2 linked regions of the Homo sapiens genome follow. The protein of the gene in region 2 purifies or fractionates together with the protein of the main gene of each other region. This does not show direct contact. Each region holds a gene or a part of one and is shown on either strand. Other genes may lie near its edges.

Evidence for each region. The genes of interacting proteins can lie anywhere in the genome.
Region 1: the proteins of DCAF7 (region 2) and ZNF503 purify together in Homo sapiens (affinity purification with mass spectrometry; 5 studies listed by BioGRID and IntAct, with this or other methods). This does not show direct contact.

Annotation. Positions count from the first base shown.
Region 1 is NC_000010.11:75,398,746-75,405,987, reverse strand, and holds the start of ZNF503 (zinc finger protein 503), read left to right. Parts: upstream 1-4,223; 5' UTR 4,224-4,568; coding exon 4,569-4,883; intron 4,884-5,613; coding exon 5,614-7,239; 3' UTR 7,240-7,242. UniProt on the Homo sapiens protein: May function as a transcriptional repressor.
Region 2 is NC_000017.11:63,546,147-63,553,492, forward strand, and holds the start of DCAF7 (DDB1- and CUL4-associated factor 7), read left to right. Parts: upstream 1-4,330; 5' UTR 4,331-4,531; coding exon 4,532-4,669; intron 4,670-7,346. UniProt on the Homo sapiens protein: Involved in craniofacial development. Acts upstream of the EDN1 pathway and is required for formation of the upper jaw equivalent, the palatoquadrate. The activity required for EDN1 pathway function differs between the first and second arches.

The DNA of each region.
Region 1 (7,242 bases), on a different chromosome or scaffold from region 2:
GAGATTATAGAGGACTTTGCCATGAGTTTCTGGGAACTGCACACTCCTGGGGCAACCCGGGAGAAATAACCCGGGCCCTGAGAACATCCTACTCCAGGCAGTGTGGCTGCGCAAGAAAGGTTTATACGGCACACCAAGAAGAGAGAGCCAGAATGGGAAATACTCCCTGGCAAGTAAAAAAAAGGGAAAAGGAAAAGGAAATGAAGGAAAAAGATGGGGGAGCCCAGAAAGACGCGGGAGAGAAAACAAAAAGAAGGGAGGAAGAAAATAAATGAGAGCCGAGGAGAGCGCAGGCCGTGGCGAGACCCCGGGCCGGGCCGCGGCTCCTGCACGCCAGGCTTCTCCCCTGCCCCGAGCAGCGGCGAGGGCCGCGCGGGACTGTCCCCTACTGGCCCCGCGAATCTGGGCCTTGCTCCCAGTCAGGTGGGGCGGACCTGGGTGCAGAGGCCTCCGCGCGCGCTTTCTCTCCCCGCTCCCAGGGACCGCGAGGCGGGGCAGGACAGGGGTGGGGAGGCCCCCGGGGGCGCGCGCCAGTCCGGGACTGTTTGGGTGCTCTGGGCCAGGCTTTCCAGCTCGCCGGGCCTGACCTGTCAGGCGGATTATCTTCGAGGGAGATTAATAGGGGAGGCGGGCTGCAATAATAATCGTTTTGTTTGATGTGACAACTCTGATAGGCGTTGATTTACTTACAAACTGATAGGCTTTTAATTGAGCGCCTCCGCCGAGCCCGAGATGAAAGGGAAGCGGCGGTGAAAGGCGGCCCGCCTGCCCTCCGGCCTCAATACTGATTAGCCATCTCGACAGTGAATAGTTCAAGGCATTTTCAAACTTTTTTCCTCAGCTCTTTCCCCTTCCTTCTCCTCCTCCCACCCCCTCCTCCAATATCTGCCTTGCCCACTCCTTTTTTAGAGAAAACAAATCATTTCCATTGTTTGCAAATAAAATCCGCAGGACATCCACGCCAACTGCTGCTGGGGGTTGGAGGCTTTAGGCCTGGCGCAGAGTAATTAATGGCCCCCACTCCCGGGCCCGCGCCGGCCTTCGGGGGTTTGGCCTCCTGCGCGAGGTGCGCAGGCTCGGACGCTGGCGCCTCCCAAAAGCCCCGGGCGCGCAGGCCCCCAGGCGCCCCCATGCGCTCGGACCCTCGGAGTGGAGTTTTGAGAAAAGCGAACGCACGCTGACCACGACCCGCACCCACGCAGCACAGCGCAGCCCCACGAGCGTGTGTGGCCACACCGGGGGACGCAGGAGCCACTCCACGGCCCCCCCAGGCTTCAGGTGCTGAGGCTGCCTCCCCTGAGCCGCCGGCGTAATAAGCTGCTGGAATTAGAGGAGAGGGGGAAGAGCTGAGTCTGGAGGCTGGGGAGGGACGCCCTTGGCTGCGTCCCCCCCGGCCCTGTCGCAGGCCCCAGAATTTCAGTGCCCGGGCCTCGCGGGGAGGCCGCGGCGATAGCGGCCCAAAGGTGGGCTCGCGGCGTTAGGAGCACTACCATTGGTTGGGTCGACACCTAGACGGCCGCGCACTCAGTAACCAGGCACACATGGACACACCCGAAGGATAAGAGTGCTTCACAGACGCGCTGCCCCGCAGAGACAGCGTAGGACTGTCCCGCCCTCCGAAACGCGCACCTGGGACTTGCTCCCCGGAGACCAGACAACCGCCTCCCTCAGCGTGGGGCCTCGCCACCCGCTCGCCGACTCACCTCCCTCAGATGTCGCACGGACACTACAAACCCCCTTGAATGCAGGTGTGCTCTTACACGCTCACACTGACAAACACCAGCCCCAAGCACACACCGCCTCACTCCCCTCTTCTCTCCAAATGAGCTTCAGTCAAGTTACCATTTCATAAAGTTTACCAACCCAAAGAATCAAGGGATAAAATCCAAACGCAGAAAAAGAATGCCTAGGAGCAAATTCTAAAACTCACCCCGGAAAGTTCTCGGTACCCGTGCGGAGTGGGAGACAGAGAAAGAAGCCGGGGAGGGGAGTCAGGTGGGGGAGGGGAGTGAGATGGGCCAAGAGGAGAGGGCGAGCATACCAAGGGCAGTTCCAGACCCGACCCCCGCGCGCACCCGGCTCAGCCCCAGGTGCGCGCCGGTCGAAACCGGGTCTCCAGGCTCGGCCCCCGCCCCCCACGCGGGCACAGACTGGCTCCCGACTCCCAGAGCTCCCAGCCCCACCATTTATCAAAAGGACTTGACAACAAAAGAAGAGCCGGGGCGGAAAAGCGGAGGAGGGGAGATTCAAAGTCTTCTAAGTCGTTCCGAGGAAGGGGGTGTGTCCTCCTCCCCACCCCCTCTAATTTCTGCGAGTTCCTGGAGGAGACCCTCGAACCCGCTCCGGACGCTATCAGAGCCCCGATAACTCACGCAGCGCCACAGGCATGCATACACACTGGGCATCCAGGTCCAGGTACCCGGTGGCACGCACAGCGCCTCCCCTTTTCTTCCCAAACAACCCGAGTGACGGTGCAAATCGAGGGGAACGCGGCAGTCCCGCTCCGCTTCCCTGGAAGAACCCGCGTTCCCACAGGCAGCCGCCCCCTCCCTCTCTCGCTCCTTCCCTCGGCTCTCCTAGCGCAGCTCATTCCGACTCGGCGTTCCAATAAATTCGAGAGAGCAGCCCCGAGTTACCCTGGCTCCCCAGCCTGCGGGGATGGCGGCAGGTGGGAGAAGGTCGGGGAGGGGGCATGAGTGAGCCTGAGATGTTTCTTCCCCCATACACCCATGGCCAGGCCTCTTCTTCGCAGCCTCTTAGCCCTGCTTACGACCCGAGGGGGTCAAAGAATTGAGGCGAGGTTTGCCCCACCATTGACCTCCAGGACTAGAAGTTCCTTGGTGGTGTGGCTCTTAGAAGTCTCCGAGTTTGGGGTTAGGGAACTACAGAGGGTGGCAGCCTGACCTCCGCACGCAACACGCCCCGCGAGGACTCGCGGCGGCGGGGTGGGGTGGCGGGAAATCTCCCGTGTTAGAAGTTGCCGCCGCTGGTCTCGGGTACCCGGAGCCGCGCCCGAACTCCGCGACCCCAACAGACCGAGGCTCCCAGAGGTGGAAGGGCGTCTCTCCGACACCGAGAGGGCAGGCGCACACTCCAGGCCTGCGCGCCCCTCTCGGCGCCCTGGGCGCACCTGCGCACTTTACTCTCGCTATTCATTTTCCTGACACCGTGCGCCTCTTTCATTCTTTTTCTTAGAGCCCCCACCCCACCCCCATCCCAGGAGGCCGCTCCTCTTTTCCCCTCCTCCAGTTCCCTCTCAATCTCCTCCTTCCTCTCCGTCTCTCTCTCCCTCTCTCTTTTTCCCTTCAAGTCGCACCCGCCTTGTAATCAGCAACAAAAGCTGACATAAATCACGGGAGGATTGACAAGAGCTGACAAATAACTGATTGATTGCGGTCGAGGAACATTGACAATTGATGGAGGGGTGGAGATGCCCAAAGAAGGGGGGGAGGGAGGAAAACAGGGTGGGAGAGTAAGAATGGGGGGTTGGGGGACAGACTGAGGGTGAAACAGAGGAAACATGTGACCCCCGCTGCTGCCCCAATCTACGCGTCCCCGGGCGTCACGTGGCCGGGAAGGGCGGAGAGCCCAGCGCTCCTCGCGGTGTTGAGCCGCCGCCGCTGCGACTGCCCATCTAGCTTCTGGTTTCTCCGCCGCGGAATCTGAGGAAATTAGAGCGGGCGGGCGGGCTTCTTCCAGCTCCGGCTCCCCACCTTGCCTTCTTACCCTGGTGGCTGCGCTGCGCCGCGCGGGATCTCGATTACTGCGAAGGAAAAAACACTGGGTGTGCAGGTTCCCTTCGCCCCTGGAGTTGACAGTCCGGCCGGTGTCCACACTCCCACCGGTGCTCCTTCTGGACACCCCCCGCAGTCTGTTCCTCACGCGCACCCCCCTTCAAAAGAAGGTTTCAGTTTATTTTCGAGCTGGGGAAAGGAAGAACGACGAGGAGGAAAAAAGAGGGAGGCGGCGGATGGCAAACGTAGAATAAATGTCCATCTCGTCCTCCCAGCGAAATCGAGGGAGGGGACACACAGGGGGGCGGCGAAGAGGGAGCTGCCCATTAAAACCGGCACTGAGAGTCCTGGCAGCGGCGGCGGCGGCGGCGCGGGACGCGTCACATCCCCTTGACCCTCCAATCACCTCGGGCTCCCATTTGATTGGAAGGCGGCAAAGGCTTTAATCTCCCCCTTGGTGCAGCTGCTTTTGAAGTGAGTTTCCTCGCCAGAGCCCCGGCTGGACACGCAGCGGCTCGCATCGCAGAGCGCAGCGCCGGCGCGGGGCCGCGAGAACGCAGCGCAGGGGAGCAGCCCGAGGCGGACACCGCGAGCCGCCCGGCACTCCCGCAGTCCAGCCGGCTCCTCTAGCCCGGCCACGGCTCCGCTGCGGGCCACCCAGGATTACTCGCGTCTGGCTCCAGGCGCCGAGAAGGCGCGCTGGGCGCCCGTGGCCGCCGCGCCAGCTCCTCCTCCTCCCGCTGCTCCTGCTCCCGGGGCGAGCGCGCAGCCCCGAGCCCGCCCCGCGCCTCCCGGAGCCCTCCCCCCCGCTGCTCCCATGCGCGCGGGTGGGTCATGAGCACAGCGCCCTCGCTTTCTGCCCTAAGAAGCAGTAAGCACAGCGGCGGCGGCGGCGGCGGAGGCGGAGGCGGCGGTGCAGACCCTGCCTGGACCAGCGCGCTCTCTGGAAATAGCTCCGGCCCCGGCCCAGGCTCGTCCCCGGCCGGCAGCACCAAGCCTTTTGTGCACGCCGTGCCCCCCTCTGACCCCCTGCGCCAGGCCAACCGCCTGCCAATCAAGGTGCTGAAGATGCTGACGGCACGAACTGGCCACATTTTGCACCCCGAGTACCTGCAGCCCCTGCCTTCCACGCCGGTCAGCCCCATCGAGGTAAGGACCCTCTCTCTGGATCGCACTGGGACCACTACCCTGGCTGCCACCCTAGGGCTTTCTTTTTCTCGGGATCTGGGCGGAGGTGGGGGGGTCGGAGTGATTCAGCTCCCGAATGGGGGAAGAGGCTACTGCTTCCGTACCTCAAAACTAGGGCGGAAAAGGGGGAGGAAGTGGAATGGGGCGTGCATGCTAGGGAGCAAGGCTGCCAATACTTGTTTCTCCTTTCGATATGAAAGCCCCTACCCCGACCCAGGCCCCTTCACTCGGCACCGAAGGCAGGCGGAGGTCTGAAATACGGTTCCAAAGTCGCCGTCCTTCGTATCCGCAGAAGCCAGTGTGTGCACACAGCCTCTGAGGCGCCAGCCGCCCGAGCCCTTACTCTGAAGAATTAAGGAGTGTTTGTGGGGAGGGGGTACAGTTCTGGGTCTAGGAACCGAAAACCAAAACATTTTGCTCTTTAAAAATCTAGTTAGCGCTCAGAGAGGGCAGGAAAGATGCTGCTGGGGGTGGTGGTTGGGCGGGGGGAGCAATCTGCTGCCTTTCCCAACGGCGAGAATGTTTGTGAGTGGGTGTTGAAGAGGGGGTGCCGCCTAGAATTGCGCCTTGGGGCTGGGAGGATCTTCGTGGGCTGTTGCGGAGAGGCATTTGAACCCCAGAAGCCAGGATTCTAAAGGGTTTCCACTTCTTTCTCTGTGTGACGCTCCCCCCCCATCGTCTGACCCCGCAGCTCGATGCCAAGAAGAGCCCGCTGGCGCTGTTGGCGCAAACATGTTCGCAGATCGGGAAGCCCGACCCCTCGCCCTCCTCCAAACTCTCCTCGGTTGCCTCCAACGGGGGCGGCGCGGGCGGTGCCGGCGGCGGTGCTGCGGGCGACAAGGACACCAAATCGGGCCCCCTGAAGCTGAGCGACATCGGCGTGGAGGACAAGTCGAGTTTCAAGCCGTACTCCAAACCCGGCTCGGATAAGAAGGAGCCGGGAGGCGGCGGTGGAGGCGGTGGCGGTGGCGGGGGCGGCGGCGGGGGTGTTTCGTCGGAGAAGTCGGGATTCCGGGTACCGAGCGCCACCTGCCAGCCATTCACGCCCAGGACAGGCAGCCCGAGCTCCAGCGCCTCGGCCTGCTCGCCGGGAGGTATGCTGTCCTCGGCCGGGGGTGCCCCGGAGGGCAAGGACGACAAGAAAGACACCGACGTGGGCGGCGGTGGCAAGGGCACCGGGGGCGCCTCGGCCGAAGGGGGACCCACGGGGCTGGCACACGGCCGGATTAGCTGCGGCGGCGGGATTAATGTGGATGTGAACCAGCATCCGGATGGGGGCCCGGGAGGCAAGGCTCTGGGCTCGGACTGCGGCGGTTCATCGGGCTCCAGCTCCGGCTCCGGCCCCAGCGCGCCCACCTCCTCCTCAGTGTTGGGCTCTGGGCTGGTGGCTCCCGTGTCACCCTACAAGCCGGGCCAGACAGTGTTCCCTCTGCCTCCCGCGGGTATGACCTACCCAGGCAGCCTGGCCGGGGCCTACGCCGGCTACCCGCCCCAGTTCCTGCCACACGGCGTGGCACTTGACCCCACCAAGCCGGGCAGCCTGGTGGGGGCGCAGCTGGCGGCGGCCGCGGCCGGGTCTCTGGGCTGCAGTAAGCCGGCCGGCTCCAGCCCTTTGGCCGGAGCGTCTCCGCCGTCCGTGATGACAGCCAGTTTGTGCCGGGACCCTTACTGCCTCAGCTACCACTGCGCTAGCCACCTGGCAGGGGCGGCGGCCGCCAGCGCTTCTTGCGCACATGATCCGGCTGCTGCGGCTGCGGCGCTGAAGTCCGGATACCCGCTGGTGTACCCCACGCACCCGCTGCACGGTGTGCACTCCTCGCTAACGGCCGCCGCGGCTGCTGGCGCCACACCGCCCTCCCTGGCCGGCCACCCCCTCTACCCCTACGGCTTTATGCTCCCTAACGACCCACTCCCCCACATCTGCAACTGGGTGTCGGCCAACGGGCCGTGCGACAAGCGCTTCGCCACGTCCGAAGAGCTGCTGAGCCACTTGCGGACCCATACGGCATTTCCCGGGACAGACAAACTGCTGTCGGGCTACCCCAGCTCGTCGTCTCTGGCCAGCGCTGCCGCGGCCGCCATGGCTTGCCACATGCACATCCCCACCTCGGGCGCACCGGGCAGCCCTGGGACGCTGGCGCTGCGCAGCCCCCACCACGCGCTGGGACTCAGCAGCCGCTACCACCCCTACTCCAAGAGCCCGCTTCCCACGCCTGGCGCCCCCGTGCCGGTGCCCGCCGCCACCGGACCGTACTACTCCCCCTACGCCCTCTACGGACAGAGACTGACCACCGCCTCGGCGCTGGGGTATCAGTGAGGG
Region 2 (7,346 bases):
GGAGAATGGCATGAACCCGGGAGGTGGAGGTTGCAGGGAGCCGAGGCCGCACCACTGCACTCCAGCCTGGGTGACAGAGTGAGACTCCAACTCAAAAAAAAAAAAAAAAAAGATCTTGGGGAGGCAGACAGCCCCCCAGATGGGCCTCTCCTAAAGTAGCTACAAACTGCTGATCCAGGTGACCCAGGATGGCGTGGGTGAAGAAGCTCACGACTTTTCCCAGCCTCCTCCAGGGCTCCATTTAAACAGCAAGCCTGGTGCAGGGTGGGAGAGTCTCAGGTGTGGAGGCAGCTTACAGGATTGAGGGGGCAGTGAAGAAAGAGGTTTCTGATCTACATGAGTACCTTGCTCTGAGCCTCCCAGCTCAGAACCCTCCAGCACCTCATGGCTCAGCACCAAGGCCCGGGGTTGGTCAGAACTCTTACCATGAGCCTCTGACCTGGCTGGAGATGGAGGTATGTTCTGTGGCAGACATGTCAGGACAGTCCTCCAGCCCTCTGCTCCTGATGGTTCTGTGACATTGGGTCTCTTGAGGGCAGTGGAGTGTCACACAGCTAATAAAGTACACATTTCATGTTGGACTGGGTGTGTAACTTATCTGAAGGTCATTACGTCTTTGACTGTGCTGTGGCTTTCTCCAAACCCTTCTTGTAAGGAGCTGCAGACTTACCCTCCACCATATCCAGTGTGTTGGGGACCTGAAGGTGGTTCTGCTGGGCCCAGAGGCTCCTGGAGCCTGGGGCTGTTAGGCCGAGGTGAAGGGAAGCAGAGGCACTGGCTTGGTGGCCCTAGGGGATCATGACAACAGCCAACACTTCGGTAGCACTCGCCCCGTACCAGGCACTGTGCTGACAGCTCTGCAGATACTTGTTCATCTAATCCTCAAAACAACCCCAACGGGTTGGTATTATTATCCCCATTTTACAGATGTGGGATCAGTAGCAGAGAGACTAAGACACCCAAACATGAGGGGGATTTCTGAGGTGCAGGTACTGTTCTGTTTCCTGATCTAGGTGCTGGTTACAGGTGTTCAGGTTGCGAAAGAGTGTGCTTCTGTGTGTAAATTATACCTCAGTTAAAAAGAAAATAAAAATAAAAAAAGAGGCCAGGTGTAGTGGCTCATGCCTGTAATCCCAGGGCTTTGGGAGGAGGATGAGGCAGGAGGACTGCTTGAGGCCAGGAGTCCAAGGTTACAGTAAGCCGTGATTGCATCACTGAACTCACACCCTGGGCAAGGGAATAAGACCCTGTCTCAAAATGAAAATTTTAAAAATCATCCCCGTGCCCAACACGGGGCATTTGTATTGACCCATTTCTACCCAAATAGCAGCGATTTGAGAGCCACCACCATCTATTTTAAAAACACAAGAAACCCTTCTTTAACATCGTTCTTTTTTCTTTTCTCATAATTCCCACTTATTCCTCCCATAGTTTTATCCTACATGTAATTTATTGGTATGCTTCAAAGCCTAATATTGATCACCCTATCATATGTTTGCAACACAAATATGTATACAGGCTGGGTGCAGTGGCTCACTCATGCCTGTAATCCCAACACTTTGGGAGGCTGAGGCTGGAAGATTGCTTGAGCCAGGAATTCAAGACCAGCCTGGGCAGCATAGCTCAACCTGGTCTCTACAAAACAATTTTTTTTTAATTAGCCAAGCATTGTGATGCGCACCTGTAGTCCCAGGTACTACAGGGCTTGCTGGGAGGCTTGGGTGGGAGAGTCACTTGAACCTAAGAGGTCAAGACTGCAGTAAGCCATGTTCATGCAACTGTACTCCAGCCCGGGTAACAGAGCAAGACTCGGTCTCTTAAAAAAAAAAAAAAAAGTGGCTGGGCGCAGTGGCTCACACCTGTAATCCCAGCACTTTGGGAGGCTGAGGTGGGCAGATCACGAGGTCAGGAGATCAAGACCATCCTGGCTAACAGGGTGAAACCCCATCTCTACTAAAAATACAAAAAAAATAGCCAGGCGTGGTGGCAGGTGCCTGTAGTCCCAGCTACTCGGGAGGCTGAGGCAGGAGAATGGCGTGAACCCAGGAGGTGGAGCTTGTAGTGAGCCAAGATCGTGCCACTGCACTCCAGCGTGGGCAACAGAGCAAGACTCCGTTTCAAAAAAAAAGTAGGTCGGTCATGGGGTGGCTCATGCCTATAATCCCAGCATTTTGGGAGGCTGAGGTGGGAGGACCAGTTGAACCCAGCCTGGGCAACATAGCAAGATCTTGTCTCTACAAAAAATAAAGGAGGCAGGAGGATTGCTTGAGCCCGGGAGGTCAAGGCTGCAATAAGCACTGTTTGCCCCACTGCACCACCACCTGGATAACAGAGCAAGACCCTGCCTCAAAACGAATGTGTATAAATTAATTGACATTTTAAAATTAATTTTTGTAACCTTAATAAGGCTTTAAGGGTTACATCTATTAGTAGTACAGTTGTTCAAAACAACATAAATATATATTCAATTTTCTAATAAAAACTAAAATTTTATTGGAAATATACGTCATAAAAGAGAAAATTTCCTCCCCCCGTTAGTTCCTATATCTGTGGATAAATATCATTATTTTTTATTAGAATAAGACAAGGTACCGCGAATTTTGTACGTCTTTTTCTTTCCTTTTTAAATTTGTTTTTAAACTTTCCTCCTTACAGGGGATTTCCTTTAGCTGGGCATGGTGGCGGGCGCCTGTAATCCCAGCTACTCAGGAGGCTGAAGCAAGAGAATCACTTGAACCCTAAAGGCAGAGGTTGCAGTGAGCCGAGATAGTGCCACTGCACTACAGCCCGGGCGACAGAGTGAGACTCCATCTCAAAAATAAAATAAAATTAAAAAAAAAAGAGGATTTCTTGGCCAGATGCGGTGGCTCACGCCTGTAATCCCAACACTTTGGGAGGCCGAGGCTGGAAGATCATTTGAGGTCAGGAGTTCGACACCAGAATGGCCAACATGGTGAAACCCCATCTCTACTAAAAATACAAAAATTAGCTGGCTGTGGTGGTGCACCCCTGTAATCTCAGCTACTCGGGAGGCTGAAGCAGGAGAATCACTTGAACCTGGGAGGTGGAAAAATCATTTATCATTAAAAATTATATTTAGTGCCCAGAATGGTGGCTCAAGCCTGTAATCCCAGTACTTTAGGATGCTGATGTGGGAGGATCGCTTGAGCCCAGGAGTTCGAGATCAGCCTGGGCAACATGGAGAGATCTCATCTCTACAAATAATAATTTAAAAATAGCTAGGTGTGGTGGCAAATGTCTGTGGTTCCAGCTACTCCAGAGGCTAAAGTGGGGGAATCGTTTGAACCTAGGCAGTCCAGGCTACAGTGAGCCCTTATCACACCAGTGCACTCCAGCCTGGGTGACAGGGCAAGACCCTGTCTTTAAAAAAAAAAAAAAAAAGTATTTAATGTTATCATCCAACAATTCAATACAAACCTCCTTCAATTTTGATGAAAGCTGAGAATTGGAAATAATTTATATAAAGGTGTCATTTGGTCTCTGGCCCTTCCCCTTTTCCAACTCACAGGCACAGATACCTTTGGGGCTGGATTAGCATTTGCGTTGGGATCCACGGCGGGAAGGGTACAGGATGGGAACTGACAAAAACAGAGCCAAGCTGGTCGGGTCGGTGCCTACCCCAGAATTCGGGGACATTTCTAGATCCTGCAGGAAAGCGCGGGAGGGCCTGACTCAAGCTGGCCTGGCCCTGAGCGCATCTGCGCGCCCGAAGCCTGTCCCTGAGGCACGGAGAGAGCAGCTTTCGGGTTAAAAGGGCCCTGGGAAGAGATGGGGCGGGAAGGTGGTACCCGTTGGGCGCAGGCCAGGCTGCCAGGCCGCAGGGCTCTGTCCCGCGAAAGTCAGTAGGTCTTCCACTAAGGCAGAATTGTACTTTTACTCGACAGCGTGGAGAGGCCGCTCAGAACAGCAGCAGCGGAGGGGAAGTCAGCGCAGGTCACAGACGGTTTCACTCTCAGAGACTTGGCCTAGAACTTGGAGGCCCGCTGCTACAGCACGCTCGCCTCCAGGCCACCCACGCCCCCACCACCCGCACTGAGCCGTTATCTGCCTGACTGACATCTTGGCCAACCAATGACCTTTGGGGCTGCCAAAGCGCCTGCCTCCGAGAGTTGGGCGGGGCGAGTAGTTGCAATGACAAACATTTAACCCAATAGCGAGGAGATTTCAGACGCTACGGCCGCAATAACCAATGACAAGAAAGAATCCTTTCGAAAGGACGTGTCAGGCAACCAACGGCCGGTGCCGCTGCGGGGGTCCGGCGGCTTCCGTTCCGAGAGGGCGGGGCGGCGTCCCAAAACGGAAGGTGGTTGTCGTCCGTTCCCAAGCTGGTTTGAAACTAGGGGTCGGGCTCGGCCGTCGTCGTTGTTTGTCGCCGCATCCCCGCTTCCGGGTTAGGCCGTTCCTGCCCGCCCCCTCCTCTCCTCCCTTCGGACCCATAGATCTCAGGCTCGGCTCCCCGCCCGCCGCAGCCCACTGTTGACCCGGCCCGTACTGCGGCCCCGTGGCCACCATGTCCCTGCACGGCAAACGGAAGGAGATCTACAAGTATGAAGCGCCCTGGACAGTCTACGCGATGAACTGGAGTGTGCGGCCCGATAAGCGCTTTCGCTTGGCGCTGGGCAGCTTCGTGGAGGAGTACAACAACAAGGTGGGCCGGGCAGGGGCTCGGAACCCAGCTGGCGGGGAGCGGGCCCCGGGAGCGCCCTTTCCGGGCCGGAGCCCAGGCCTCAGAACCCTCTTGCGGACTCGCCCTAGGGCCACGGAGCGGTTCCTCTGTCTGGCCCTGTGCTGAAGGTTTCGTACTCGTTGTCTGTCTCCTTTAATCCAGGCAGCATTCTTGTGTAGTCGGCAGTGTAGTGGGGAAACTGAGGCACGGTTTTGTGACTTGCCTGGGTCAGGCAGCTATTTCGGGGTGGAAACAGGTCTTAAAACCGGGTTTACGCCCCAAAGATACTCCATTTATTCATCCCGTGCTCTCCACTCCTGCCGCATTGCTTTCGTTGGTGGGCGGGGAAGGGAAGAGAGAGTGATAGCTGTGAAGGAAAATGCAGGCGCTTCTATTGGTGGTCGTGCACTCCTGGCCACACTAGATTTCTATTAAGACGATCTATTGTACAAGCTTCCCCGCCCCCTACTCCCACCCCCCCCGGGTACTCATGGATCCTAGCCCTTCTGCCAGAATTACTGTTGCTCTTGCTTCCTGATATCCATTCTCTCTAAAGCAATCTCTTTGGAAATCTTGGCCTGTGGCATGATCCCGCCGTTGTTTCCTGAACACAGAAGGATGACAGGGCCTTATCTCTTGGCTTGTTTCGTGCTAGTACAGTTGTGTGACCTTTAGTAGTAAGTCTTGCTGGACATACATCAATTTGAGAATCCTTTATAGAAGCACGGTGTAGTAGGGGAGCTTTTAAACTGGCATTGCAACAAACTCATTTTTGAAAGTTGAATAAGTCAGTTGGAAGAATTTTCTTTCTTCCTTTTACTCAAAGTTGTGAATGATAGCGATCAGAGCAACTGAAAGCTGTGGCTAGTGATATTTAAAGCCACTACTCCTGCTTTATGCCATGAACATCAGATTTAAGAAGAGTAAAACTGGCCGGGCGCGGTGGCTCACGCCTGTAATCCCAGGACTTTGGGAGGCCGAGGCGGGCGGATTACCTGAGCTCAGGAGTTCGCGACCAGCCTGGGTAACACGGTGAAACCCCGTCTCTACTAAAATACAAAAAAAAAAAAAAAAAAAAAAAAAAAAAAAAAAAAAAAAGCCGGGCGTAGCTTAGTGCGCCTGTAGTCCCAGCTACTCGGAAGTCTGAGGCTGGAGAATTGCTTGAACCTGGGAGGCGGAGGTTGCAGTGAGCCGAGATGGCGCCACTGCACTCCAGCCTGGGCGACAGAGTGAGACTCTGTCTCAGAAAAAAAAAGAAGAATAAAACTGTTCAGTGACAAGGCTGATGCAGGGGGGAAGAAACCAGGTGGTCCTGTCTGGTTATTGACTAGCTGTGAGATGTTGCACAGGCCTGTTTTATTATCTGTGACCCACAGTTTGTACGGAAGGGGTTCTGGTTTACATGTGAGGGTCTTGTAAAAAAGAAATTTGAACATTTCACAGTTTGTTTACAGTTTTTCAGGAGCACATTTGTTTCTCTAGAGTAGGTCCTCTTTGGAGTCCACTTTGAGAAGCTGATGAAAGCTATGGATTCTCATTGTCCAGACATTACACATACATGAACAATTTACAAACAAATCCAAGGAATATGCACTGATCTTTAAGTCCACCCATTGCCCGGGCGAGATAGAGCTTTCTTTCCTCTGTTGCTTCTTTCTTCCTTATGGCCCATAGTGGACAGCAGAACTGGAAATGGGATTCACGATTCTGATGTGGACACCGTGTTAATAAAATTAAGACCACTAGAACTATTGTTTAAAGATACACGTGGAAAATAAAAAAGTATGTCTTTCAAAGGGCTTAAGTCTTTTTACACAAATTAATGTTTTTTCTTGTAAGTTTTTCCAGGGTCGTTGGGTAAGCAATAGTTACTCCTATTCCTCAGAGAGGAGAAACTGAGCCACAGTTAGGCTGCTTGGTAGGATCAGTGGAGTAGTCAAACTGCTGTTGCAGGAACTCTACCCCAGTTTGTCCTTTCATTTAGCAACTATCTGGAGCTTCCTCTTTGTGACAGGCACACAGGTAGCATGGCTTAGCAGTGAAATGCAAACTAATAACCCCACTATCAACAGCATTAGCAGTTAACTATATCTTAACTCACATGATGTAGGCAATGCGCTGTCTTAAAATCATTTTTGTGCCTCCACCTATCAGTAGATCAGGGTTCTTAAATTCTGTGTGCCATGGTCATCTGATACCAATAGACCCCTTCTCATAGTTATGTTTTCAAATGCATAAAACACATAGAATTACAAAAGAAACCACTTATGTTGCACTACAGATATAAACAACATGTTTTTTAAAGTGGTGATGTAGTCATATGTACTTTTAATAAATTAACTTATTGATTTACACCATCCACTGTAATTATTAATGTAATTTTGAAATGGTGACAAGGGTAAACAGCATTTCAAGATGCTTAACAACTGTGCTGTGGTGGGAAAAAAAAATTCTCTTGCTGGCAAAGTCACAGACAGTCATACCACTGTGAGCACCTGACCCCATTTGTAATTGAAGGAAACAAAAAAATTTAGCTAGAGGTTAATGGAAATATGGGGATAATTTTCCAATTCAAGTTCACAGACCCCAAGTTAAGAAACCCTGCGAGAGAGAAGTATGTGTAGTGGTTGGTGAGCAGCAAATCCTGCCTTAAAGTGAT